Linked DNA regions of Homo sapiens. The protein of the gene in region 1 interacts with the protein of each later gene in a biochemical or structural test. Each region holds a gene or a part of one and is shown in the gene's direction. Other genes may lie near its edges. The genes, in order: PALS2, RALBP1, ADGRG1, KIT, RASSF6, MTMR1 and KHDRBS1.

What was found.
Region 2: the proteins of PALS2 (region 1) and RALBP1 interact in a test that uses a peptide from one of them, tested with the Homo sapiens proteins (one large-scale study listed by IntAct).
Region 3: the proteins of PALS2 (region 1) and ADGRG1 interact in a test that uses a peptide from one of them, tested with the Homo sapiens proteins (one large-scale study listed by IntAct).
Region 4: the proteins of PALS2 (region 1) and KIT interact in a test that uses a peptide from one of them, tested with the Homo sapiens proteins (one large-scale study listed by IntAct).
Region 5: the proteins of PALS2 (region 1) and RASSF6 interact in a test that uses a peptide from one of them, tested with the Homo sapiens proteins (one large-scale study listed by IntAct).
Region 6: the proteins of PALS2 (region 1) and MTMR1 interact in a test that uses a peptide from one of them, tested with the Homo sapiens proteins (one large-scale study listed by IntAct).
Region 7: the proteins of PALS2 (region 1) and KHDRBS1 interact in a test that uses a peptide from one of them, tested with the Homo sapiens proteins (one study listed by BioGRID).

The regions. Positions count from the first base shown.
Region 1 is NC_000007.14:24,691,464-24,695,247, forward strand, and holds the end of PALS2 (protein PALS2), read left to right. Parts: 3' UTR 1-2,730; downstream 2,731-3,784.
Region 2 is NC_000018.10:9,481,539-9,485,701, forward strand, and holds part of RALBP1 (ralA-binding protein 1), read left to right. Parts: intron 1-4,163. UniProt on the Homo sapiens protein: Multifunctional protein that functions as a downstream effector of RALA and RALB. As a GTPase-activating protein/GAP can inactivate CDC42 and RAC1 by stimulating their GTPase activity.
Region 3 is NC_000016.10:57,651,967-57,656,129, forward strand, and holds part of ADGRG1 (adhesion G-protein coupled receptor G1 isoform b precursor), read left to right. Parts: intron 1-1,236; coding exon 1,237-1,369; intron 1,370-2,019; coding exon 2,020-2,167; intron 2,168-3,432; coding exon 3,433-3,564; intron 3,565-3,909; coding exon 3,910-4,026; intron 4,027-4,163. UniProt on the Homo sapiens protein: Adhesion G-protein coupled receptor (aGPCR) for steroid hormone 17alpha-hydroxypregnenolone (17-OH), which is involved in cell adhesion and cell-cell interactions.
Region 4 is NC_000004.12:54,730,412-54,734,574, forward strand, and holds part of KIT (mast/stem cell growth factor receptor Kit isoform 1 precursor), read left to right. Parts: intron 1-916; coding exon 917-1,008; intron 1,009-1,459; coding exon 1,460-1,587; intron 1,588-2,658; coding exon 2,659-2,781; intron 2,782-4,163. UniProt on the Homo sapiens protein: Tyrosine-protein kinase that acts as a cell-surface receptor for the cytokine KITLG/SCF and plays an essential role in the regulation of cell survival and proliferation, hematopoiesis, stem cell maintenance, gametogenesis, mast cell development, migration and function, and in melanogenesis.
Region 5 is NC_000004.12:73,585,613-73,589,775, reverse strand, and holds part of RASSF6 (ras association domain-containing protein 6), read left to right. Parts: intron 1-1,841; coding exon 1,842-1,936; intron 1,937-4,163.
Region 6 is NC_000023.11:150,731,247-150,735,409, forward strand, and holds part of MTMR1 (phosphatidylinositol-3-phosphate phosphatase MTMR1), read left to right. Parts: intron 1-223; coding exon 224-373; intron 374-1,295; coding exon 1,296-1,484; intron 1,485-4,163. UniProt on the Homo sapiens protein: Lipid phosphatase that specifically dephosphorylates the D-3 position of phosphatidylinositol 3-phosphate, generating phosphatidylinositol. Could also dephosphorylate phosphatidylinositol 3,5-bisphosphate to produce phosphatidylinositol 5-phosphate.
Region 7 is NC_000001.11:32,030,539-32,034,701, forward strand, and holds part of KHDRBS1 (KH domain-containing, RNA-binding, signal transduction-associated protein 1), read left to right. Parts: intron 1-985; coding exon 986-1,102; intron 1,103-2,649; coding exon 2,650-2,796; intron 2,797-4,163. UniProt on the Homo sapiens protein: Recruited and tyrosine phosphorylated by several receptor systems, for example the T-cell, leptin and insulin receptors. Once phosphorylated, functions as an adapter protein in signal transduction cascades by binding to SH2 and SH3 domain-containing proteins.

The DNA.
Region 1 (3,784 bases):
GTAAAATTCTCCCAAAATGTATGAATATAAAACTGAATGTATTCATTCATGTAATTATAACTAGCATTCTAAAATTTTTAATTACTCCCATTTCTTTGACATTCTGAAACTTTTTTTAGATTGTTTTAAAACGCTCTGGTTCCACCTTGAAGCTGATAATCTTTCTGAAAAATATATGAGAAACTCAGAAAGTAGTCATTATTATAATAAATTTAATTTTCTTAGGGAAAAAGGGCAGGGTTCTGGATGGAAACCCCTTTGGAAATTCTTATTTAAACTTTTGAATGAATCTTTAATATGATTCAGGCTGAGATTATGATACCTGCCCTTGTCTTATTTCAAGAGGTTTGCTGTGAGAATTCATGTAATAACATCTGTAATGTATTTGGAATTTTTGGGAGAAATTCATTCTTTTAAATAATGGGATTATTGTATATAGTACAAATGAATACTCACAAAATTTAAGAATACATTTGACTAATAATTGAGCATCTTGTCAGTTTTTATGCAAGCATATATTGTATACCTGAGGAAGATGACAGTTCTATAATTTTTTTAAGGTAAGGTTATTTTTAAATTGCATTTTTGTTCTAACGTTTTGCAATTTATATTCTTTTTAAAATATTTCCCATAATTCATCATGCTAGCTTCTGTGTTCTTGGAATAGTTTTTGAAAAATGCAGAGATTCGAACATGAGTCCTTAATATACTAAACAGTGAAAGAATGATGATATCTCATTTCTAAAGTAAGCATGGTTCACACCACTTTGGCAATACACTGCAGTACTTTTTAAAAAATATTCTCTAGTGATAAAAGTAAAGACAGGGTACTGGCCAAGATCCTAATTCTGACTTCTGACTGTGTGATCTTCGATGAAATTTATATTTCCCTTTATCATTACTATTCTACTTGTTAAGTAAGGCTAAGTTAATATTTGTCTTCGCCTTAAATTCTGATTTGTAATTTGTAACTCTGATGTGGTAGCTGTGATATGGTGAACTGAAAAATCCTTATTAGGCTACTTTATCTGTTCTCTTTTAGTTATTTTAAAGTGTACCTGTTTCTGAAGTAATGTAGTGAATGGTGAATACTTTTCAGGAATTCTTCCAGTTTTAAAATAGCCCCAAAGATACAGTTTCAGCTGGTGGAAGGTCTGTTCTGCTCTCTTAGTCCTAATCAGAAAGTCCCTTTTATCTTATAATCCCATACTAAATCCAAACCCTTAGCAAATCCTTGCTGCCAACCAGACCACTCACAAATCAAACAAAATGTAAGCAAGCAATCCAGTACTCGGTTACACCAGAAGACTCTGATCTTTGCCCCCGAAAACTGTCCTACTTTATCCTTATACCTGAAATCACTGCATACCTGAAATCACTGCAGCCCTACTGTTTTACCCATACCATTAATTTAAAAAGGCATCTATTTCTTTATAGAAAGAAACATTCACAGTGAGGTCTTAGTTTGTGAACCTCAAAATCCAGATATTAATCCACTTTAGTTATTACTTTGTAATTGCTTCTCAGTCATTGGCTGATAATGCAATGGTGTGATAAATTTGACTTATCTCCACATACAAAAGTCGATCAGAAGGGATAGTTCTCTTCCTTTTTTTCCCCTCCTACTGGCTCTTACTGTTTTCTAATCTCCAGTGTAAATGGAATGAACACATCTATAGTTAAGGTAAATGCCACCAATCAGAAGATTGAGTGATTTACTGCTTGTAAAGCAACTGTCTTTGAATCTTATGAAATAGGTGGTGTTGCTACCACAGAAGCCAAAAAGGTCTTAAAATTGGAAATAGATGTCTTTATTGTACTTCAGCCAACAGCAAGCCAGGGGAAGGAACATACATAAATATGACAGGTCATATATGAAATTTGGCTCTCCTCCTATCAAAGTAGCCTAGGAGCTTGGAGGAAGCCTAATTAACTAAAACAGGAAAAAAGCATACTCATCTGATGTAAAAACTCATCAGCTGTAAATTACCAACATTAAACCAGAAGTCATTACCAGTTAAAATGTGTGGTTTTCATCTTATTCTTAAATAGGAGAGGTGGACAGTAGTGTAAGTAACATTGCTTTAAAGACATAAAGCTTGTCCTGGTAAACATGGTCTAAATGAGAAATGCCTCCATCTTTTCAGGTAGAACCAGATTTCAGGCATAGCTCAGCTACATCTGTATTTGAAATACAATAAAAATATTTCTTATGTCTCTGTATTCTCTTTTAAAAAGAACTGCTGACTGGCTCCTGTCTCTTCAGTAACACTGATTTTTTTTTAAAGAAGTGATATGTTGGACTCTGTTGTAGAAGAATGAGCACTAGTATTCAGCAACAAGTGCAATTTCTCCATGTTATGTTGAGCTCTGTTGGAGCCTATGGTGAGTATTTGATGTGAAAACCTTGCTGTGGGAATTTTTTATTCTTCCTTTTCCCCCCACGCCAGTTCGTTTTGGTAAGTCTTTTATTTGAACACAAGACGCATGCTTTTTTAAACCTCTAGTTTTTGAAGTAACTGTAGAAGAGAATCTTTAAAAAAAAAAATGGAGGGCAGAATGCTTGTTAGCAATCTGAAAATCAAAGCTGAACAAGCTGCTTAAAGTTTCTGATTAAGAAGTTTAAAAAGAAAAATTAATTGCTACTGCTTTCCAGGTAATTGTATTATTAGTTTCTGTATAAAAGAAACATTATTGCTGTTGTATAAATAAAATTTTCCTGTGGTACAATTAAGTATTGATTTTTCAGAAACTGTCCCTATAAATCTTTTCACATATTTCCATGTGCTGTCCAAAACAAAAATTATTGAAATGTCTAATCTGTGAGATTATATACTCCTGGTAAAATATTTTTGTATATATAAAGAAATATTTACTATTGGAAAAAAGTGTTTCATTTATAGGTAGAACTAAGGTTTAGAGATAATAATGGAGGATATCTGATTAGCGTTGATAATTTTTTTTAACTGTTTGCATTTTTTAACTTTTAGGTTTGGGGGCACATGTGAAGGTTTTGTTACATAGGTAAACACGTGTCACAGGGGTTTATTGTACATATTATTTCATCATCCAGATACTGAACCTGGTACCCAATAGTTATCTCTTCTGCTCCTCCCCCTCCTCCCACCCCCCACTCCAGTAGACCCCAGTGTCTGTTGTTTCCTTCTTTGTGTTTATAAGATACTATCATTTAGCTCCCACTTAGAAGTGAGAACATGCAGTATTTGGTTTTCTGTTCCTGTGTTAATTTGTTAAGGATAATGGCCTCCATCTCCATCCATATTCCTGCAAAAGACATGATCTCATTCTTTTTTATGGCTGCATGGTATTCCATGGTGTATGTATATATCTCATATTTTCTTTATCCAATCTGTCATTGATGGGCATTTAGGTTGATTTGTGTCTGCTATTGTGAATAGTGCTGCAGTGAACATTTGCATGCATGTCTTTATGGTAGGAAGATTTATATTCCTCTGGGTATATAACCAGTAATGGGATTGCTGGGTCAAATGGTCGTTCTGCTTTTAGCTCTTTGAGGAATCTCCGTACTGCTTTCCACAATAGTTGAACTAATATACACTCCCACCAACAAGGTATGAGTGTTCCCATTTCTCTACAACCATGCCAGCATCTGATAGTTTTTGACTTTTTAATAATAGCCATTCTGACTGGTGTGAGATGGTATCTCATTGTGGTTTTGATTTGTATTCCTCTAATGATCAGCGATATTGAGCTATTCTACATGTGGTTGTTGGCCACACACACGTCTTCTTTTGAGAAGTAT
Region 2 (4,163 bases), on another chromosome or scaffold:
AGTGGAAAATGCATTTAATGCACCTAACATCATAGCTTAGCCTCGCCTACTGTAAACATGCTCAGAACACTTACATTAGCCTACAAAATCCTCTAACACAAAGTTTATTTTATAATAAAGTGTGGAATATCTCATGTAATTTATTGCATACTGAAAGTGAAAAACAGAATGATTTTATGGATACCATGTAAAGTTGAAAAATCCCAAGTTGAAACATTGTATGTTGGGGACAGTCTGTATATACAGAGTTGTACAGCCATCACCACAGTCAATTTTAGAACATTTTCATTACTCCCCCAAAAAAACCTCCCCATTAGCAGTAGTCACTCACTATTTCCCCTGCCCTCATTAATCTACTTCTGTATCTCTTGATATTTCAGATATTCTGGATATTTCATATAAATGAAACCATATATATCATCTTTTGCAACTGCTTTCCCTCACTTAATGTTTTCAGGGTTCATCCATATTGTAGGATATATTAGCACTTCATATTTTTTATTGCAAAACAGTACTCTCTTATCTGGATATACCACATTTCATTTATCCATTTATCAGTTGAACATCTAAGTCGTTTCTCCTTCTTGACTATTCTGAATAATGCTGGTGTGAATATTCATGTACAAGTTTTTGTGCGGGCATACGTTTTCATTTCTTGTGTATATACCTAGGAGTAGAATTGCTGGGTGTGATGTTATACAATAAGAAATATATATTTGGTCTTGGTCTGGTTCCTAGCCTAGAACTTCAAAGATCCTTGGAACTCCCTGAGTAATAGAGGTAATAGAGCATATTTTGGAATTCATAATAAGTCTCTCAGTCACATCTGAATTTATGCTAATAAAGTGATTCTTGGTAGGCCCCTAGACAACTTCAGGATGGAAGCTGGTTGCCAGAAGAACCAACTGTGTTGATTAGAGAGTTGGAACTTGCAGCCCCACCCCTGGATGGGTGAGGGGGTGGTGGTGAGGACTGGGTATTGAGATCAGTTATCAGTGGCCAGTGATGTAATCAATCATGCCTGTGAAATGGGACCTCCATAAAATCTTCTAAACAGTGGTTTTCAGAGAGATTCTGGGTTGGTGAATGCATCCTTATGCTGGGAAGGTGTTGCTTCAACTTCATGGGACAGAAACTCCTATACTTGGAACCCATCTCGGCCTCACCCTTGTGCCTTTTGATTTGGTGGTTTATTTATATCCTTTATAATAAACTGATAGGCATAAGTAAAGTGTTTCCCTGAGTTTCGGTGAGCCATTCTTGCAAATTATTGAACATGAGGAGGGGGTTGTGGGAACCCCTATTTATAGCTATTTGGTCAGAAGTACAGGTGGCAATGTGCAGCTTGTGGCTGGTAACTGAAGTGAGGGTAGTCTTGTGGAACTAAGCCTGTGGAGTCTGACATAAACTCTGGGCAGTTAGTGTCAGAATTGAATTATAGGGCACTCAGTTGGTGTCTGGAAAGTTGGAGAACTGTATTGGTATGGAAAAACACTTCCACATGTGGTGTCAGAAGTGTTGTTAGAAAACAGCTCATGTGGTAACTCTTGTTGAACAGTTTGAGGAACTGCCAAATTGTTTCCCAAAGCGACTGCACCATTTTATAATCCAATTCTCCAATTTCTCTACATCTTTGCCAATACTTGCCATTTGCTTTTTTAAATTTTAGCTATCTTGGGGTGAAGTGGTATCATGTTGAGGGTTAGATTTTCATTTCCCTGGTGGCTAAGATGTTGAACATCTTTTCATGTGCTCATTGGCCATTTGTATATTCTCTTTGTGGAAATATCTACTGAAATCCTTTGTCCATTTTTGAATTGTATTGTTGGTTATTGAAAGAGTTCTTTGTATGTTTGGTTACTAAATGTTTATCAGATATATGATTTACAAATACTTCTGTTTTCTGGGTTGTCTTTTCACTTTCTTGATAATATACTTTTGATGCATTAAAAGTTTAAATTTTACAGTATAATTTATCTGTTTTTTTTTGTTTGTTTGTTACACAGGCTTTTGGTGTCATGTCTACATTGCCAAATCCAAGGAATGAAGATTTATTCCATACTTTCTTCTAAGAGTTCTGTGGTTTTAGTTCTTATATTCAGTTGTTGGTCCACATTTTTATATGGTGTGAGATAGGGGTCCACGTTTTTTTGTTTTGTTTTGTTTTTGAGACAGAGTCTCACTCTGTCGCTCAGGCTGGAATGCAGTGGCACAATCTCAGGTTACTGCAATCTCTGCCTCCCAGGTTCAAGCAATTCTCATGCTTTGGCCTCCCGAGTAGCTGGGATTACAGGCGAGCGCTACCACGCCCGGCCAATTTTTGTATTTTTACTAGAGATGGGGTTTCACCACATTGGCCAGGCTGGCCTCAAACTCCTGGCCTCAAGTGATCCACCCACCTTGGCCTCCCAAAGTGCTGGGATTACAGGCGTGAGCCACTGCGCCCTGCCAGAGGGGGTCCACTTTTTTGCATGTGGTACTCTAGTTGTCCCATCCTCATGTGTTGAAGAGACCATTATTTCCTGATTGAGTGGTCCTGATATCCTTGTTGAAAAATCAGTTGACCACAAATGTCTGGGTTTTTTCCCCTGGACTCTTTGTTTGATTCTCATGGTTGATATAGCTATCCTTATGCCAGGTACCATGTGCTGTTTTGATTACTGTGGCTTTGTAGTACATTTTGAAATTGAGATGTGTGAATTCTTCGACTTTGCTGTTTCCAGTATTTGTTGGCTCTTCAGGGTCCCTTGCAATTCCATATGAAACTGAGGATCCATTTCTGTAAAAAAGGCCATTGGAATTTTAATAGAGATTGCATTGAATTTGTAAAACATTTTGGGTAGTATTTCTGTTTTAAAAATATTAAGTCCTCCAATCCATTAACAATAGGATGTCTTTTCACTTATTTAGTTTGTCTTTAATTTCTTGCACAATATTTGTAGTTATCAGTGTCAAGTCTTTCACTTCCCTGGTTAAATTTATTTCTATTTTTTTTTTAGGTGCTGTTGCAAATGAAATTGTTTTTTAAATTTGTTTTTCAATTTGTTTTTCACAATTGTTTTTCACAATTGCCTAGTGTTTAGATATACAACTTATTTTCTGTCACCTTATATCGTGTGACTTTGCTGAACTCCTTATTAGTTCCCATAGTTTTCTAGTGTATTCTTTTGAGTTTTGTATATAAGATCATGCTGTCTGTAAACAGAGATAGTTTTACCTCTTCTTTTCCTATATGGGTATCTTTTATTTATTTATTTTTCATTCCTAATTGCCCAGGCTAGAACTTCCCATACAATGCTAAATGAAAGTGGCAATAACAGACTTCCCTGTCTTGTTCCTTATCTTAGGAGGAAAGCTTCCAGTCTTTTACCATTTAGTATAATGTTAACTGTGGGTTTTTCTTTCTTTTCTTATTTTTTTTGAGACACGGTCTCATTCTGTCACCCAGGCTGGAGTGCAGTGGTACAATCATGGCTCACTGCAGCCTTGACCTCCCAGGCTCACGTGATACTCCCACTTCAGCCTCCTGAGTAGCTGGGTCTACAGGCATGAGCCACTATGCCTGGCTAATTTTTGTATGCTTTGTAGAGACAGGGTCTCCCTATGTTGCCCAGGCTGGTCTGGAGCTCCTGGGCTCAAGCTTCTGCTTCAGCCTCTCAAAATGCTGGGATTATAGGCATGAGCCACCATGCCTGGCAACTGTGGGTTTTTCATTGATACACTGTATCAGTTTAAGGATGTTCCTTATGTTCCCAGTTTGTTGAGTACTTTGTTGAGTGTTTGTCAAGTGTGTTGCTTAATTATCTACATATTTTTGAAGTTTTCAACATTTTGTCTGTTATCGATTTTCAGTTTCATTTCATTGTGATCAGAGAACATACTTTGTATGATTTTAGTCTTTTAAAGTTTATTGAGGCATCTTTTATTGCCTAACATATGATCTGTCCTGAGACTGTTCCATGTGCACTTGAGATGGATTCGTATTACATTGTCTTTGGGTGGGGTGTTCTATAGATGTCTGATAGATCTAGTTGCTTTATAGTGTTGTTCAAGTCTTCTTTTTCATTGTTGATCTTTTCTCTAGTCTATCCATTATTGAAAGTGAAGTATTGGGAGTCTCCGTTTATCATTGAACTGCCTCTTCGCCTCTCACTTCTGTCAGT
Region 3 (4,163 bases), on another chromosome or scaffold:
ACTGAAGATCAAGAGCCCCAGGAAGAATTCTTCCTCAGCATCAGTGTAGACTGTTTATTTCCTTTCACAGAGGAGGAAACTGGGGCACAGAGAGGATGCCCAAAGCTGCACAGCTAGCCAATGGGAGAGCCAGGATTTGAACCCAGCAGCTGATTGGAGTGGGGTAGGGGTGAGGGGCGGAGTATGAGAGGTCAAAGGTCAGGAAAGCAGTGGGGTTGACTCTGAGGTCCAGAAGCTGCATCTTCCCCCTTGAGTGTGACAGGTACATGTGGCCACTGCCATTCAGCACCATTAAATGCTGAATGGTGGCCAGGAAGGGAGGAGCATCAGAAGGAGCTTGAAGGTTTACTGGGGGGTTTTCATGTCTTTCCAGCACCTCAAGTTTGAGGCAGGGCTTTCAGGGGTGGGGGGCACAGCACTTTGATTGTGTCAGTGTAACAGGCTAATGATTATGTCCAGTGCAACAGGCAGGCCCAGGCCCGTCAGTGGTGGGGGGTTCCCCACACCCCAGGCTGGGATTCTGCCCCGCAACCTGGGAGGATTTAGGGCAAAGTTGATCCTAGTTGCAAATTGGCATTCTGAAGACCAGACTGAACTTGGTCTTGTTTGGCCTGTAGAGGGTTTTTAAAAAACATGGACCAGGGATTTCAAATCACCTAAAACCCAGGCTTTCTCGGTTATGCATTCAAAAGATGGAGCTACCCAGGGCCTGCCTTCCTCAGTGGCACAGAAAGTATACCCTCCAACCCCCACTGTTTGTCTTCCTCATCTGAGTCCCAGCTAATCCCTGGAGACACCTTAGTCGGCCGCCTTAGTAGGCCGCCCACGCTACCTGGGCAGAGGGGCCCGAGCCTGGAGTCAGGGAGGCTGGTGGGTGTGGAGTCCCAGGAACCACCACCAAGCCCCGCACATCCCTCCTAAGGAGGCCTGGCTGGGCCCTCTCTGCTCCGTGTGTGTAGCCGAAGGTGTCTGCGGAGGGTGCTGAGCAAGGCACATCCCACCCCATCCCGCTGGGGCTGGCATTGCTGGCGGGTTCTGTAAGACACAACCCCCACGGGTTGGCCTCATCTGAGTGGCCTTGGCAGAGTCCACTCTGCTTCTTGAAGCCTCAGTTTCCCCTTTGTAAAGTAAAGATCGAGGCATTCAGAGTCATGTCAGGGTGGTAGGGGGCAGAATGGGAGGGTCCTGGGACCTGAATCGGCAGCCTCGGCGGGGGCCTGTCCACCCCTCCCCCAGGTCCTCCCCACACGGCCGCTCACAATGCCTCGGTGGACATGTGCGAGCTCAAAAGGGACCTCCAGCTGCTCAGCCAGTTCCTGAAGCATCCCCAGAAGGCCTCAAGGAGGCCCTCGGCTGCCCCCGCCAGCCAGTAAGTTTGGCACCTGGGGCTGTGAGGGGAGGCAGGAAGGCATCAGAGATCTGGACCTGGGCAGGGTGGGACCTGGAGTAGGGGCTACTGCGAGGCCTTCCCTGGGACTGGAATGCTTCTTTGATTTCTCTTTCTGCCTTCTGGGAGTCAACACATGCCCCCCAGGCTGAGCCCTCTCCTGTCTGAGTCAGTAACCAACATCACATCCACCATCCCAAGCCCTCCTCCCCCTCATAAAGAAAGGATGGGTGGTCCACAGTACAGCCCAGCAGACCAAGGCTCAGAGACGGCAGAGCCGCTCCAAGGCCACAGAGTAGGTTGGCACAGGCGGAGCTGGGCCCAAACCCATGGTGCTGAGTCCCAGGACAGCCCCCACCACACCATTGCTCTCCTTTCCCTTGGCTCCCAGGTCCTGGCCTCCTCTGTCTGACCCTACCCCAGCTCATTCTTTCTCTCCCACACGCAGATGCCTGCTTTTCTCTTTTGTCTGCTCTCCACTCTCTCTTGCCCACCCCACCCCTCTCTCTGCCTCTGCCTCTGCCTCTGCCTCTTCCCTGTGTCTCTGTCTGAGTCTCTCGTCCTCCTGCCTCAGTCTCCCTGGTGGCCCGGCCCCCTCCCCACCATCACCACCGCTTTCTCCTCCCTGCCAGGCAGTTGCAGAGCCTGGAGTCGAAACTGACCTCTGTGAGATTCATGGGGGACATGGTGTCCTTCGAGGAGGACCGGATCAACGCCACGGTGTGGAAGCTCCAGCCCACAGCCGGCCTCCAGGACCTGCACATCCACTCCCGGCAGGAGGTCAGGGGCAGGCCTGGGCAGGAAGCAGATGCGGGTTGGGCCGGGGCCAGATGGAGGTGGGGGCTGTGAGCACTCCCTGAAGCTCAGTGCCGTCGCAGCCTCTCCCTGGGGCCTCCCGAGAAGGTTCCAGGCCCGAGGATAGCCATCCTAAGTCAGTAGTTCAACCGTGGGATTGAGGACCCTGTGTGGGCACAGTGGCAGGGTCTGCTTCCTATACCAGTCTCCTGGGGCCACCCGTGTGAACAGAAGACCAGCCCCTAAACGCCTGTCCACGCACCCCCCCCCCCCGTTTTTTTTTTTTCGAGACAGGGTCTTGCTTTGTCACCCAGACTGGAGTACAGTGGGGTAATCATGTCTCACTGCAGCCTCAAACTCCTGGTCTCAAGCGATTCTCCCACTTCAGCCTGTGAGCAGCTGGGACTGCAGGCTTGCTACCACACCTGGCTTTAAAAAATTCTTTGCAAGGCTAGGTGCAGTGGCTCACATCTGTAATCCCAGCATTTTGGGAGGCCGAGGCAGGCAGATCACTTGAGGTCAGGAGTTCGAGACCAGCCTGGCCAACATGGTGAAACCCTGTCTCTACTAAAAATATAAAAATTAGCCGGGCATGGTAGTACATGCCTGTAATTCCAGCTACTCGGGAGGTTGAGGCAGGAGAATCGCTTGAACCCGGGAGGCGGAGGTTGCAGTGAGCTGAGATTGTGCCACTACACTCCAGCCTGGGCAACAGAGCGAGACTCTGTCTCAAAAAACATTTTTTTATTTTTGTAAAGACAAGGTCTTGCTACGTTGTCCAGGTTGGTCTTGACCTCCGGGGTTCAAGCAGTCCTCTCGCCCTGGCCTCTCAAAGTGCTGGGATTACAGGCGTGAGCCACTGCACCCAGCCACACACCCCATCTTGAGACTGCCCCCTGAGTGGCTCTGGTTAGCTGGGAACCACCCACACTGCCCACATGGCCACCCCCAAGTTGGCTGCTGTAGGCAGAGCTGGCATCTGAAGCCCCAGACAACAGAACATCATGTGGTTCTCCCAGGGCTATTTGCCCTGGAGTCCTGGATTCTAACCACAAGACTCCCCAGCCAGAGCTGGTAGCAGGGAAGGGAGGGATGAGGAGGGCTGTCATGAGTCAGGCTTGACTTCCTGAAGAAATGGGCTTAGAAGTGGCAGCGTCCAGGAACGGATGGGTGTGTGTGTGTGTGTGCTAGGGTGGGGGGCACGGATCTAGGGGTCCGCATTTGGCTGAGCCCTAAAGGGACCTCTGCAGGAGGAGCAGAGCGAGATCATGGAGTACTCGGTGCTGCTGCCTCGAACACTCTTCCAGAGGACGAAAGGCCGGAGCGGGGAGGCTGAGAAGAGACTCCTCCTGGTGGACTTCAGCAGCCAAGCCCTGTTCCAGGTATGGGGTCCTCACCCTCATGCCTCCCAGGAGAAAGCAGTTTTTTTCTGACAGAGGTGGAAAGAAGGCACGCAGATGAGCTCCTTCCTCTGGGAGTCAAAGCCTTTCCTTGTAAAGTTACAAATTGCACTGCAATGTGCAAATCTCCCTGTGAGAGGGCTAAGCAATGTTCTTCTTACTATAGTGTAAATGACTACATGGGCAAAAGTGGTTCCAGAGGGAGACGCAGCATCTCAAGGCAATGTGCTGGGAGAGGGTTATCTAGAGAGGGTAAGGGGCTTCTGGGCCCTTCTTCTCAGTCCTGAACTCCCTCCCTACTCTCTTCCTCCAACCCCATGTATCTAGGACAAGAATTCCAGCCAAGTCCTGGGTGAGAAGGTCTTGGGGATTGTGGTACAGAACACCAAAGTAGCCAACCTCACGGAGCCCGTGGTGCTCACTTTCCAGCACCAGCTACAGCCGGTGAGTGGGGGCCAGCCATCAAGAGAACAAGCGCCCCTCGGCCATGTCACCCTTTCCTCTCCCTCCCTCCAGACTCATTTGTCTTTATAATGAAACGATTGCCTGATCGAGCAGTCAGGTCCAAATGGGGCGGGTGG
Region 4 (4,163 bases), on another chromosome or scaffold:
TTACCCCTTAAAGCCATTTTCTGTACCTCTGGCTAAAGTTTAAAACCCCAGGTGAAACTTTTTATTTTTTTTTAATCCTATAAACTTGAGTAGTTTAAAGTGGTAGTAGAAACTGTACAAAACCACTTTTTGTTAGTTTCTCCTGGGCATGTGCTCATTATATGAAGAAATGAGCCATTTTGCTTCTTTCCGAAACCTTGGCCCTATATATATCCTTTAACTTTCTGATATAATGGCCTAAATTGTTCAATCCTGTGTGATGTTCTTTGTGCTTTGGGATCCCATATGGGATTGGAACCACCAGCACACTCTGAAGGAGATTGTTGTCATGGTGTTTCTATGCTAATCAGAAGCAGGAAGTACTAGAAATCTTGAAGAGTCTCCAGCCAAATGTTGCAGATTGAAGAGGTCCAGATGGTTCAGAAAATCATCCAAATTATTGGTGTTTATCTGAACCAACTTGATTTTTTTTTAAACCTTCCTCCATCAGTCACTATATGTTAACGATCTCTGCCTCCTGCATAACACGTCTTGGAAGCTCTTCTTTGTCTTTCTTTCATCTTGTCTCCTGGGGCTCATTTAGAGAGTTTGAGGTAATACGGGATACCATATTTGGCTCTCTGTCTCCCATTAAATTCATTGTGTCAAGAGACGGGAAATTTCTAACCTGAGTCCTCTATATGATTATACACAAAAAGGACACCTAGTTTCTGGGCATGGACCCCAATATCGATTATTAAAAACTCATTTCTTACAGAACAGGATTTTCAAACTCTTTATTCAAACTTTACATGACTTTCCTCAAATTGGTCCAGTCTATTATGTAGCAAAGGGGATGAGGAGGTAGAGCATGACCCATGAGTGCCCTTCTACATGTCCCACTTGATTCAGTCATGACTTGTTTCATCTCTCCCAGCAGCGATAGTACTAATGAGTACATGGACATGAAACCTGGAGTTTCTTATGTTGTCCCAACCAAGGCCGACAAAAGGAGATCTGTGAGAATAGGTGAGTACCTACCTATCAAGCAACCAAGAGTAACTTTACAGAGAGTATGTATATCATGCTAATGTGGAATATAACATCATTCCCAGTAGCAATGATGCAGACCAGTTCTGCTTTATGGTAGCAGTGCCAATGGTCAATGGCAGTTAGGGTTGCAAGTGGGTGTTTGGGGTCAGAGCATATGTTTTTGTGCCTGAGTATCTTTCTATAGATATGGGATCTTTGCTTTAATTCGCCATCCCTCTCCTCTATGGATTTTGTAACCCAGCCTAGGATTGTTAAATATTAACTTTGTGATTCAGCATCTACCTTTCCTGGACACCAGGGAAGTGATCTGCCTGCAAGTTCACATTAGTTCATTCATTACCAGCCTTTGGTATGTCATTGCCACTGTCTTTTCCTTTCCTGACCTTTATGGTTGTAATTGCTAAGAAAAATCCTCTCTTCCTCACAGGCTCATACATAGAAAGAGATGTGACTCCCGCCATCATGGAGGATGACGAGTTGGCCCTAGACTTAGAAGACTTGCTGAGCTTTTCTTACCAGGTGGCAAAGGGCATGGCTTTCCTCGCCTCCAAGAATGTAAGTGGGAGTGATTCTCTAAAGAGTTTTGTGTTTTGTTTTTTTGATTTTTTTTTTTTTTTTTTTTTTTTTGAGAACAGAGCATTTTAGAGCCATAGTTAAAATGCAGAATGTCATTTTGAAGTGTGGTAACCAAAAGCAGAGGAAATTTAGTTTCTTCATGTTCCAACTGCTGTCTCTTTGGAATTCCTGTTCTAATTTATAAGCTGTAAAGTACAAGCCTGTCTAAATGAGTTTTTCTATGAATATTCTTTTATATGCAGTGAAATTCTTTTAAAACTTTTGGCTTTTAGGATATAGGATATGTTCCTAGAGAACAGAATCATTTTATCAGTAAAAGCAGAGGGCACCTCATAGTTACAAGGCTTGGGGTGAAGCATAGACTTGAGTTTTATTGAAGTTAGATCCAAATATTATATGTGTGGCTTATGAAGTGTCAGGAAATAAGGGGTCAGAGGGAGTAATAAACACTTGGGAGAAGGTTAGGAATGGAAAGAATGATGGAACCAAAACAAGGAGCATGGTCTGTGGAAGGGTGAAAGGAGTTCCTTAGGAAGTAAGATTAACCGAACAGAATGAGTTACCAGTCCTACCCTTAAATGTCATGGGTGACATTTCCCAACAATTACCAAACTAAGAAAGGATATAAGATGGCTGAAATAAAGACCTTCTTCCGTGTGTCCTTGGGAGATGTCAGATTGAATTTGCAAAGGCATATTAGGAACTCTGTGAAAGGACATTCAAAGAGATGCATGCAAAATGAATTTTCAGTTTAAACAATATGATATGACTATTTCTTATGTATTTCCCTATGAATGAAAGCAGTCCTGAGAAGAAAACAGCATTTATTAGAATTGCTTTTAAAAGAGATTATAATAATTAGACTCTTGATTATGTGAACATCATTCAAGGCGTACTTTTGATTTTTATTTTTGGTGTACTGAATACTTTAAAACAAAAGTATTGGATTTTTTATAATATAAGCAACACTATAGTATTAAAAAGTTAGTTTTCACTCTTTACAAGTTAAAATGAATTTAAATGGTTTTCTTTTCTCCTCCAACCTAATAGTGTATTCACAGAGACTTGGCAGCCAGAAATATCCTCCTTACTCATGGTCGGATCACAAAGATTTGTGATTTTGGTCTAGCCAGAGACATCAAGAATGATTCTAATTATGTGGTTAAAGGAAACGTGAGTACCCATTCTCTGCTTGACAGTCCTGCAAAGGATTTTTAGTTTCAACTTTCGATAAAAATTGTTTCCTGTGATTTTCATAATGTAAATCCTGTCTAGGGATATCACACATTTTAGCAGTCAAATTAAGTATACTTCAGCAAAATTTGCATGGTATGCTGAACATTACTACAACTAACATTCAATAATAGAAGTCCTAATTCTAATTGTGTAATTTTGGGGCATGTGAAGGAAACAGAAATAGCCTTAATTTTCATTATAGCCTGAGAATAGCAATGAACTTGATTTTGCTCAAGTGTAACAAATGTAGGTCATTGAAGGTCACAGCAGGAGAAATTTTGGGGGGATTGGCATGCCGTGTGAAAAATATTAAAATCTAAGATCATATTCAGAGTTAGCCATATAGAATGTTGGATCCTAGAATACACGGAGAGCTATTAAATAGGTTCATAAGTAATAATGGGTTTGTAGAACATAGCAAATGTTTTTCAAAGTGCTGTATTTCCTTGCCAATTTTTATTGAATCCTCAGAACAAACCCTTGTCCTATAATTGCAGCACCTTCCTATTTTAAAAGTTGGAGAAACTAAGGCATGGCATATTTTAGTGCTTTTTATCTGAGGTGACACAGGACAATAGAGGCTGAAACTAGAGCCTGTGATTTCCAGAGTGGCATCCCATCGCCATGGAAAACCATATTGCCCTTTATAATATTCTCTGCCTGTCTTCCTGGGCCCATTTCTGCAGTCCAGATTTATTCCTGGAGGTGGATTTTTGTGCCCCTTATGATAATGTAATGTTTTCCCCCCATCACTGTGGCGTCTCTATTGGTAGCCTGTACTCGATTTGGTTTTGTAAGAGTGTTTCTGTGTTTATCTCCTGGCCAAAGCATGAATTTCTGAAAAGGCTGCCCTGAAGCTAGATATTATCATCAGGAGTGATAATAAAAACAACTTCTCTTCATCCTGGTGCAATTTTGGAAGGAAGAATGATAAGTCGTTAATTATCCAGTCCTCTGAATATTGACCAAAGGGAGGAGGAAGAAGGTGGCCGCCTCCAGGCCCAGTCTTGATGAATTCTGCAATCTGTCTCCATTATTTCATGCCTGTGTAATTTTGTCAAGAGTTGTCCAATACCTCTGAATCTTTGTTTTTCTCCCCTTGGGAATAATAGTGATTCCTGACTCAGAAAGTTATGAGTTAATATATGTAAAGTGCTTATGACAGTGCCAGACATATTGTTACTATTCTTTATAGATGTCTTATTTACGATCTAAATAATCGTGACGGTGGTTACATACTGTCTTGTTATTGGTTAGTGACCTTAGTTTGAAATGACAAAGAGGGGTTGGCTCTATCAGGCTTCCAGATTGTAGACTCC
Region 5 (4,163 bases), on another chromosome or scaffold:
CAGAAGTCCCATGTTTGGGCAAGTTAAACTATTTGATATTACATAAAGTTCCAACCAGTTTTCTCTTGAAAACTCTGGATAACTGCCCTGAAGCTTAGTCATGTGCACAGTTGTATGGGGTGATGCTTCAAATTACACAATCCAGAGCTGAAAACTGGTGTTTTCTGCTGTAGATGGTAGAAAAAAATAAGGGGCCAAACACAGAATATATTGGATGACTTTTGGCCTCCTATATTTGTGTGACAAAACTAAGCTGTCACGTCTGCGAGGGTCACCGAGAATTTGACTGGCATCCTGGGGATTCTTATCTTTAGCCCTATGACATAGCATCAGGTTACTTTGCATTTTTAGTTTCTGTTTTTCATTGGTATTGACTTTTCCATTCCTAACCCCCCTTCTACGATAATTATGTCTGCCACTTTCTGATTATTAAGCTGCTATAGATTTGGGGAAATGGGTAATTTTATCTGCCATAAGACTAATTAGATTCTGAGTCAGGACCTGGTAGTTTTCCTTTGAGTTAAAGTTATTACCTGTAGTTGGGCTTTATGACATTTGTTTTGATTGGCTGTATTCTGAATAGTACAGCTTGCTGGAAAATTAACAAATATATTAGGATTACCTTCTCTACATCATAAGGCTATTGTGAGACTCAAATGATATAGTAGCCATAAAACACGCTTCAAAAGAATTCAAAAGTAAAGAGGATAAGGGATGACTTTCTTCATATTCACTACCATTAGTATTAATAAATATTTTTTGTTGCCACCAATGAAATTCGGGCAGAGTCAATGCCATAAATTCCCTATAAGTGAATATATTTTAGTCATAAGAAAAACAGACATTACTGAAGAGATTCTTAGATAATAGCAACCATTTGCCTAGAGAGATCCAGGAACACCTTGGGTCCCTAATGGTTCCTGGCCCATCAGGAATGAAATAGATACAGATGCTGGTGATGATGATGATGATGATGATGATGATGATGATGACAATGGAGATGAGGATAATTATAATTATTGTTAATCTATATTGAATGCTTACTATTTTCAGGGCACTGATTCAAGAATTTTATACAAATTAACTCTTTTAATCCTCAAAACAACCCTATCCTACCTCATGCTATTATCATTTTTATTTTACAGATGAGGACACAGGCACAGAGGGGATAAGAAACTTGTTTAAGACCAGATAAATAAAATAAAATTGAGTTTTGACCTGCCGTAAAAATAAACATTTGTCAGGTTTCATGTATTCTGAGCACTAGAATGCACTTAAAATTGCTAGTTTCTTTATGAAATCATAATTTTCTGGCAAAATTCTCATACATTTTCCTCCTTCGTAAACTACATTCTTCATGGTAGTCAAGGGCCTTAAACGATAGGCACTATATTTTATTATTTTAGAGCCACTCTACCTAACAATGTTTTGAATGCAAAAGGTACAATACATATTGACAGAATGTATAAAGAACACTTTTATACCCAAGCTCCCCTAAGAGTATTGTGAAATATCTTTATAACAATTGATCATCTTGGTTTCTACTAATTCAATTTGGACATATGTTTTACAGAATCTATATAACTTGTGTTTCAGTATGTAACTGAATTATTACGTCAAAAAGATATGCTCTATAAAAGTACAGGAAGCATTTAAAACATATATTGACCACTTTGGTATGAATATAATTTTAATAATATCATAAAATTGTTATAACTTTGGACAATATATCCACCTACAGAGGCCCACAGTATTACTATATTAATATTGTAAATCTGGAAACCATCATAGGCTTCAATATAAATGGAACTGATGTACTTACAAGATTTATTACTTCTCAGAATGACACGCTGGGGGGAATTTGACGATCTCTATCGTATTAGTGAGCTGGACAGGACCCAGATTCCTATGTCTGAAAAAAGGAATTCCCAGGAAGGTCAGTATCAAAATCTTATTGATTGGGAGACTTAATTTTTAATTAGTGTAAAGTATGACTCCATATGTTTCTCTGAAATCTAACCTTTTTCATACTACTACACAATAAACTCTTGTTTTATATGTATATATATTTTTAAATATCTTAGGAGCATAGTAACTTAAGTCACTATAGTGCTTGTATGATGTTTAAGAACCTTACTTTGGTATATAAAAATATAATTCTTAAAAAAATTATATTATGTCACTTAGATTTATTAGAATAGGGAGAGCTAATAGTTTTAATAAAGTTTGTATTCATAAAATTGTTAAATATCTTCCCCAAAGATTAGAGTCATTTATTATTCCCAATAGCTTTATATGTTAGGCCAAGCCCATCAGACCTAATTCTGTATCTTTTTAGAAGTTGAACGTTTTAGTTAGTTAATAGATATGTCAATAACATTACTTCTCAGAAAGACACAGATATGCTGGAGTCAATTTTATATTTGATAGAGTTATTTCAGAGATCTTTTTAAAAGAGAAATATACTTAAGGATCAAATGGATCCATACTGAACTTGGCAAACCAATGGGAAATGCCAGCTCCAGGGATGTGTGACATTAGTAGTTATAATCATAATGGTGATGATGTGAGAGTAATAATAGTGATATTGATAGCTGTAATCTGATGAGACTCTGGTAAGTATCAGGCATAATATTTTGTACTTTATATGAATTTTTTCATGTAATTCTCATAAACACATAAGATTCAAAGAGTAGTGGATGCTGATGACTGAAGCTAGAATGAGGGGTGGTGGACAGGGTTCATGTGCCTGAAATGGGGCTGTGATTTACGAAGTCAGTTCAGTGTGAACAAAGGTATCCCACTAGCATTAACTTCATAAGCCTACCAGCAACTTGCAATGTTTGTTCTCTTTTTTTTTTTTTCAAATCATTCTCAATTCTGCCTCGTCTGCTATTCCACAGGAACCCAGATCCTGTGACAAACATGATGTTCCTTCCAGGGTTCCCTTTTCTCTTTATGCCATGGGATCTTTACATCTTGTTAAATATCGGCCCTTCCAATTATCTTTTAGAAATATATATGAAACCCAAGGAAATCCCAGTATCTTGGCATCAAAGACATCATAAAAATATATTTGTATTTAAACAGCAGTGCTAGAGAAGGAAGAAATATCTCATGCCTATTTGATAATGTTCTAATTACAGTAGAAAATTTTTTAAAATCCTAAAGTAAAATAAAACACAAATGCCACCACATGGTCTTATTCTTACATATGAATATGCATAGGAGAGGAAATTGAAAAAGGTACTATCAATTGTATACAAGCAGAAAGGGGGGCAGAAGGCAGGTTTGAATCTTCTGCATCTTAGGCTAGTAACACATTGTAGCTCAATTCAATTCCATTTAAACACCTTCTGCCTACTCAATAGATACTAGAGTTGTTCAACGCTACACTATAATTTTATACTCTAAAATCTGCTATAGAAATTGTAATAATTCAGTAACCAAATTTTGACTAATCAATTATGAATCATTGTTAAATATACATGACTCAATGAGAAGAAATAATAGGATAGTGGACAACTAAGTGAAAAAGTCATTCATATCATACATCTGGAATGTTCTAAAAAGAACATAATGTGATATATTACAAATAGTAGGACTAGTCCAAAGCATACTATTCCTTTTGCTTTTATAAAAGATGGGAACAAAATCTTTCAATGCTCCACATACCATATAAATAGCTTCTCAAAGAGCTTTCTGTAGTTTTATAGGAAAACTAAGGCCCAGTGTTTATTTTTTAGGAAAAGCTCCAAAGAACTTGGGCCAACATATAATGGGGTGGGGGGAGGGGGGAGGGATAGCATTAGGAGATATACCTAATGCTAAATGACGAGTTAATGGGTGCAGCACACCAGCATGGCACATGTATACATATGTAACTAACCTGCACATTGTGCACATTACCCTAAAACTTAAAGTATAATAATAATAAAATAAAAATAAAAATAAAAAAATAAGGATCCAGACCTGATTCTATCATTTATGAGTACTATGTCCATAGGAAAGCCACTTCAACTCACTGTACTTTTTCTTACCTGTAAGAGATCAAACCTGATAAAGTATCAGGTTTATTCCAGCTCTAACACTCTGAAATGCCACAAAATGCACTCCCCAATAAATTAAGATTAAAGGAATGCCCAAACCCCAAACATGATCAT
Region 6 (4,163 bases), on another chromosome or scaffold:
TAGTATGGTTTGGATATTCTTATGCTTCTTTAGATTTTTAGAAATGTCTAGGAAATGGGTTTTACCGAATAAATATATATATTGACTTTTAAGTTACAATAAACAATAAATTATAAACGGATTTTAGTTGCAAATAAGAAATGGATGTACTTCATGCTTAGTACTTTTTCAAAGTGTAAAGTCATGCATTTCACCCTCTTCTTCTTTCTCCAACACCTTACAGGGCTTGCCAAATGAGAGTTGGAAAATATCCAAAATAAACAGTAATTATGAGTTCTGTGACACCTACCCTGCCATCATTGTTGTGCCAACTAGTGTAAAAGATGATGACCTTTCAAAAGTGGCAGCTTTTCGAGCAAAAGGCAGAGTCCCTGTAAGTAATAAACATTGTCATTTATATAGGAATATATATTGCGTTAGATCTAATATGGAGAGATTTAAGACAAAAAAGAAACTAGTGAACAAAAATGGAAAGCAGAAAAATAAGCTTATAAACCTGAACATACCTTTGATTCTCAACAAATACCTAATTATATAAACAATCTGTTTGCTATGACTCCCTCTTTTACGATTTCCTATAACTAAGTATAAGGGGAACTTCAGTCATACCCTCAAAAAGTAGTAGAGAATGACAAAGGAGTAGCAACAACAAGTTATCATGCTATTGTATTACCAGTTGGCATTGCTGGTTTCACTGAATCATCCTAGAGAAAATGCTTCTTTCTTAGATACTGAGCATGATGCCATAGCTGCGTGGGAGGGACATCATTACAGAAGTAGTAGCAGACAGCTGGGAGTAATGGTTTGAGCCCAGAGTTTGCATCTGTTGTAATCCTGAGTCACTTGGCCACTGGAGGAAAATGAGAGGTGGGGTGGCAGAGTGTCAGATTTTATAAGAGACTGTATATTCACTTTGTCCTTACCCTGCCACGTATATTATTGTTGAGATACAAAGATGTTTTTAAAATTAGGAGACAAGGTAAAATTAGTCAATCAAATTGGAATGGGGCTAGATTTTAGTAATAGTTTGATTTAGGATTTGTTTTTCTTAGAATCATAGAATATTGGGGATGGAAGGGGATTTTTAGAGCTCATGTAGTCAGAATTGTTTCATCCTGACCAAAACATTGAGTCTGATGGCCACTACAATGCTGTGATTGGCCTGCCCACTCTCACTTTTGAAGAAAATATGTATAAGAGACCGTGCTTGAGAAGGGAACTTGTTTTTCCTACCAGGTAATTAGAGCATACATTCTTTAGGAACTGTACTAATATTTATTGCTTAAAAACACTAGGTGTTGTCATGGATTCATCCGGAAAGTCAAGCAACGATTACCCGTTGCAGCCAGCCACTTGTGGGTCCCAATGATAAGCGCTGCAAAGAGGATGAAAAATACTTGCAAACAATAATGGATGCTAACGCACAGTCACACAAGCTTATCATCTTTGATGCTCGACAAAACAGTGTCGCTGATACCAACAAGGTATATTCTTAATAGCACTGCAGAAACACTGGATATTTTCATGTCCTGTCTGTAAATCATTATGCAGTTGGAATAACTCATTGATTTCCTCACCACCTGAAGTTAGAATCATTTGGAGTCCCATAGCTATTCCTCCCTGGTGTATGCTCCTTGGGCTGTGTTTGGTGTCTCACATGGGTTGGGATCTTGTCTGTTTCATTGCTTCTCTACAATATCCTGTCTGCTAAATCAATTAAGTAAAGACCTAGAAAGACAATTATCATCTAAAGGATTTAGCATTTTAATGAAATGATCGTGAGGTCCTTGGAAGTCCGTTTAAGGAATATAGTGGTTAGTTGATTAATTCATGTCTGGTCTGAATTTCTTTTAGAATGGAATCAGCCATGTGAAATGTGTAAATGTACAAAGTTTCCATAAATCTCATGGAGCACCTGTGTAGTGTACCTCGGGTGGCAGTGAGACATGGTTAAAAACACCTCCGTTCCCATGACTTTCATGATATCACACCCTGAGTTTCTCTCGCTCTTCAGCCTGGCCTTCTCCATCTCCTTCACTGATTTCTCTTCCCAGTCTTCAAATGGCATTGCTCCTCGAACTTGGTCTGGGGTCCTCTTTGCTCTACACAGACTCCTGGGGCCATCTCTGATGACACGGCTTTAAACACTGTCTGTATGCTGAGTTCAACTTGAGCTTGACACTGCAGTTTCTCTCCTGTCCTGATCCCTCCTAAGGTTGAGACTGGATTTCTATCCCATTGTATGGTTGACATCTCTGCTTGGCTGTTTCCCAGACCACAAACCCTCCGTATATTCCAACTGGCCTGAGAGGCACGATGGCAAGTTGGTGAGACCCCTTGGCTTTGGAATCAGTTACACCTGGGTTTTCCTCCAGGTTCTGCCACTTGGTGCTCTAGAATCCTGAGCCGGTTACTTAACCTCTCTCTGTGCCTCAGGTTCCTCTTCTGTAAAACAGGAGATAATATCAGTGTCTCATGTCATGGGTTGTGTGAGGATTAAAATTCAGTGAGAAGAATGCATGTAAATGACTTAGCACAGTGGTGAGTGCATCCTCAGGGCACAGTACATGATGCTGATAAGCTCGCCACCCCTGTGGTCAAGGGTGTTGCCCAGGTGTCTGACTTGAGGGTGAATAGTGGTGTCTGTTACTGAGATGGGGAAGACTGGGAGAGGAACAGGGCAGGGAGGAAGATGGGGAAGTATTAGTTTTCTGAGGCTGTCATACAAATTACTACCAATTTGTTGGCTTACAGCACCAGAAATGTATTGATCACAATTCTGGAGGCCAATTCTGCTCCCTCTAAAGGTTCAAGGGGAGAATCTGTTCCTTGCCTCTTCCAGCATGGGGTGGCTGCCCCAGCCTTCCTGGGCTTGCAGCCACATCACTCCAATCTCTTCTTCCGTCATCACATGACCCTCTCTTGCTCTGGGTTTCTGCGTCTCCTCCTTTCTCTTCTAATGACACTTGTGATGACATTTAGGTTCCACCTGAAATAATCCTGGATCCTTAAACACATCTGCAAAGACCCTCTTTTCAATTAATCTTGGAATCCTTAAACACATCTGCAAATCTCAGGATCCTTAAACATCTGCAAAGACCTTCTCTTCAAATAAGGTCACATTCACCATTGCCAGGGATTCGATGTGGATGTCTTTGGCGGGGCCACTTTTCAGCCTACCATAGGGAGGCATCCCTCAGTGAGGCCCCCTTGCTCCCCACATCTGGATCATTAGCTGTGTCAGTCTTTCTACATCTCTGCCTCCCACCTGTCACCACCATATCCCAAGGAATTACAAAATGTGAGAAAAGCCATATTGGTGGAGGCCATCTTCAGACTAGCCAACAGGGTGAGGGCAGTTCATTGTGTTTTATCCCATGCAGGAGAGATAGAGACAGGACACTAAATTGTATATCTAGAATAATTTTAACTATGGCAGTATATGTGTCTAGGAAACAGTATTTTCTAGGTCTCCACTGGTTCTTTATATATAAGATTATGTCATATGCAAGTCGAGATAATGTGACTTCTTCCTTTACAATCTGGCTGCCTTTCATATCTTCTTCTTGCATTGGTATTGCATTGGTTGATTTTTATATGTTGAACCACTGTCGTGGATTGAAAAATGTCTCCCAAAAGTTTGTCCAACTGGAACCTCAGAATGTGACCTTATTTAGAAATAGGATCTTTGCAGATGTATTAATTATGATGAAGCCATCTTGGAGTAGGGTTGGCCCTAAATCCAGTGCCTAGTGTCCGTATAAGAAAGCCATGTAGAGACACAGGCACACACAGAAGGAAGATGGCGATGTGGCAATAGAGGCAGAGATTTAAATGATGCAGCTAGAAGCTGAGGAGTGCCAAGGACTTCCAGCAACCACCAGAAGCTAAGAGAGAGACATGGAACAGATTCTTCCCTATACCCTCCTAAAGGAACCAACTCTGCCAGCACCCTGATCTCGGACTTTCAGCCTCCAGAACTGTGAGAGAATAAATTTTATGTTGTTTTAAGTCCCCCAGTTTGTGATAGCACCCTTAGGAAGCTAATAAAACCTCCTTACATTCCTGGGATAAATCCCACCCGTTCATGGTATGTGATCAGTCCCCTTCATATACTCTTGGATTGGGTTTGCTAGTATTTTGTTGAGGATATTTGCATGTAT
Region 7 (4,163 bases), on another chromosome or scaffold:
TCTCTTTCATGCTTGTAGTACCTGTTACTGAGAGTTGAAATATCTAAGTTCTTAACTAATAACATAGCTATAGCCAGGAAGGAAATATAATCATCTTTTTATTATCAAAAAGTTTCTTTCTCAAATGATTGCTCAGGCTACAAGTTCAAAGAAAAAAAAATTAAAACCTGAAGAGTTGCTCTTTGTCAAAAGACTAACCTGAAATCTAAATAAAAGGAAATATAATATGAATCCTCAATTGGTTGAAGTTAATTTTATTTTCTTACTAAAAGTTTACTTTTAAGTAAATGCTTTTTTTCTTCCTTTTTTTTTTTTTAGGAAAGCATTTAGTTACATTTAGTTTATCCAGCGTGTTATCAAAGGGTGCTATATAGTCTCTTCTGTTCTGAGGTCACTGCCTTAAAAATGTTGATGTATGTTAAGTGCTGGGCCAGGCACAGTGGCTCATGCCTGTAATGCCAGCACTTTGGGAGGCCGATGCAGGCAGATTGCTTGAGCCCAGGAGTTCAAGACCAGCCTGAGCAACATAGCGAAACCCCATCTCTACAAAAAATACAAAAATTAGCCTGGTGTTGTGGTGTGCACCTGTACCCAGCTACTCTGGAGGCTGGGGCAGGAGGATCACTTGAGTCCAGAAAGTTGAGGCTGTGATGAGCCATGATTGTGTCACTACACTTTGGCCTGGGCAACAGAGTGAGAGCCTGTCTCAAAATAAAGTAAAAAATAAAATAGTAAAGGTCTTAATGTATTATGGAAGAGCACCAGAATACATCAGAAAAGCCAAATTCAGGTCTAGGAACTGCCACTTTCTAGTTTCATAACCTTAAGCTAATCACTTTATTAATATGGCTTCAGTGTCCTTCAGTAAAATGGGAATGGTAATACTCTACCTTTGCAGGGTTGTTTAAAATCAAGTGAGGTAATTTATGTGGAAATGTTTTTATATAGTAGCATGTATATTTAGAAATCCTCTATTTTCTGTCAGTTCAATTTTGTGGGGAAGATTCTTGGACCACAAGGGAATACAATCAAAAGACTGCAGGAAGAGACTGGTGCAAAGATCTCTGTATTGGGAAAGGGCTCAATGAGAGACAAAGCCAAGGTAAGCTCACATTAGTGAGGCAAGAGGACATCCTAATGCCTTCTACTTGCCCAGAATGCAGTATGGATGTCTTATAGAGGCGGCAAGAATTTTGTATGTGTACAGAATGTGGCTCCTTTAAGTTTGCACTGGATGCAAGAGATTATACACCAAGTTAATTTACTTGGCTTGGCAACCCTGGAAGAGCCTAGGTGTGCCCTGGTGATAGTTTTCTTTTGGACTTTTTGACTGTGTAGTAATGGAAACAGCAGTAGCATGTTGCGCATTGGTAGGATTGTCTGTGAAAACTTGAAAGGGGAACTGAATATACTAAAATTTAGTCTAAAGCAGACAAAAGACGCTAAAATGCAAATAGCACACCCCCTTTTTTGTAACCTGGAAAAGTGAGAACAATAATGTGAGAGCAGATGAGTTTGAGGATTAGTTGGTTTGTTTTATAGCCGGTTTGGAATGTGAGGCTCACTAAAAGAATGTATTCCAAAAGGAACCATGAGTAATCCTGACTACAGAATCTAATGCGTCTTTTTTTTCCCCATGCCATAGCCGCGTACGCTGTGTACTCTGTGACAAGAAACTTCTCACCAAAACAGAATAGTCTTAGCCTTCTGGGGTCACCTTATTTGATGAGATATTCCTGCTACAGTCCAAAAACCAATTCTTTCAACCCTCCTTTTATGTAGTCTAATGGACACATGTTTGTTTTCTCAGGTCATTTCTTGCTAGATGCATATAGTTACGGCTGAAGTGTGTTCTAACTAATGAGATTTACATGAGCTTTTCTTCCCTCTGTCCTGACTTCTTTCTTCCCCTACCACTCCCTAGACCATATAAGCAGATAAGCAGAGCTCGTGGTGATTAACAGCTCTACCTGTGATTTAAAAACAAATGCTTGGCAAACAGCTATTATCTGAATAGACTAGAATTAAGTTTTTCTTCTTTATGCTTTTAGTAGGAGCTCCAATGGATATCTCAGGGATTTAAGACAACAATTAACTGTAAGCAGCAGACCATGTGCAAGTTTAGCAGGCTGTGCAAATTACTGTTCTTGAGAGTTTGTTTTACTTTTTTTTTTTTTCTTGAGAGGGAGCCTTGCTCTATTGCCCAGGCTGGAGTGCAGTGGCTCACTGCAACCTCCACCTCACGGGTTCAAGCAATTCTCCTGCCTCAGCCTCCTGAGTAGCTGGGATTACAGGCGTGCGCCACCATGCCCGGCTAATTTTTGTATTTTTAGTAGAGACGGGGCTTCATCACATTGGTCAGACTGGTCTCGAACTCCTGACCTTGTGATCCTCCCGCGTCAGTCTCCCAAAGTCCTGGGATTATAGGCGTGAGCCACCGCGCCTGGCTGCTTGTTTTACTTTCTTAAACTTTACTGTTTTTCTTTTTTCTTTTTTCTTTTTTTGTTTAATTCTTCTCAGCTCATACCAATTAACTTTACTGTTTTTCATGGACATTAGGGGTATTTCTTGCTGTTCCTTTGGCTTAGAGGTAAAGGTGGTGTTTTCTCCCTAGTCCATGGTGTGACATTTCTCTGCATTTTTCCATAGGAGGAAGAGCTGCGCAAAGGTGGAGACCCCAAATATGCCCACTTGAATATGGATCTGCATGTCTTCATTGAAGTCTTTGGACCCCCATGTGAGGCTTATGCTCTTATGGCCCATGCCATGGAGGAAGTCAAGAAATTTCTAGTACCGGTAAGGAAATCCATATCCTGTGTCTTCTGAGCAAAAGAGAACTGGGATCTTATACTGTTGTGAAGGTAGGGGTTCTTAACTAAGGTCTCTGCATAACCTGTATGTATACCAAATTCTGCACTTATGTTCATTTTCCTTAGGTAGTTCGTTACTTGCACCTAGTTCTCAAAGCATTATGCTCCAAGGCCACTCTATCCCTCCTTGTCTAATGTGGTTTTCATTGTGTACCGGTATCTTGTCAGTATCTCGGGTCCACAGTGTGCCTGCATTCTGATATTTGGTTAACTAAGGTTTAACAGGGTCTTCACCTAGCTGAGTATTTTGGTAGTAGTGTGGAACAAGGAGATTGTGTTAGGAAAGTGACTAAGGTGGGTCTCTGCACTCAAGAAGTTCATGCTGTAGAGAGTAGAGACTAGCAGCAAGAAGCTTATAGCATCTAGTGTTATTGGGTTAAATTCTGACCTGAGCACACTCAGGGATTTCTTTCCTGGAGGAGTTTGCTGAGGACGAGTTTAGTTTGGAAGAGGTTGACTATTGATGTTTAACAGATAGGTGAGCAGCTTTTTTCAGACTATTACTGAGGACTAGATAGAGATGGGACAGGCCAGTTTATCTATCTTGCTTGTTACCACCTTTGAATACTTGGTTGGAATATTACTTTGAATAAATAGGAAATGGTACTATTTTTGCCTTTTAGCAAGGCCTGGTGGTTGTCAGAGTTAACATACTACTGTTGAATATTTAATAACAAGGATGAATCTGGAGACTTATGAAGGATTTGGAATATTATTAAGTAGAATTGAGTAAGCGTCATGTGTTCATCAGAAAACTAGGAGGAGGTAAGATACAGTCCTTGGTTTTCTTGAATGTTAAATGAGGGAATTAGAACTAAATGTGGTGTCAGATGATGTGAAAATTGATAGGGCAAAAATTTATAGGCAGTGTGGGCCAGGCACGGTGGCTCACGCCTGTAATCCCAGCAATTTGGGAGGCCGAGGAGGGCAGATCACCTGAGGTCGGGAGTTCGAGACCAGCCTGACCAACATGGAGAAACCCTGTCTATTAAAAATACAAAATTAGCCGGGCGTGGTGGCACATGCCTGTAATCCCAGCTACTAGGGAGGCTGAGGCGGGAGAATCACTTGAACCCAGGAGGCAGAGGTTGCGGTAAGCTGAGATTGCACCATTGGACTCCAGCCTGGGCAACAAGAGTGAAACTCCATCTCCAAAAAAAATAAATAAATAAGTTTTTAGGCATTGTGTACCCATAATGCTGAACTCCAAGGATTCCAACAGTCTCAAATGTCTTAGCAGCTGCTTTGCTTTCAAGTACCTCATCTTCATTAGAATGTTCAACATGAGGCAGG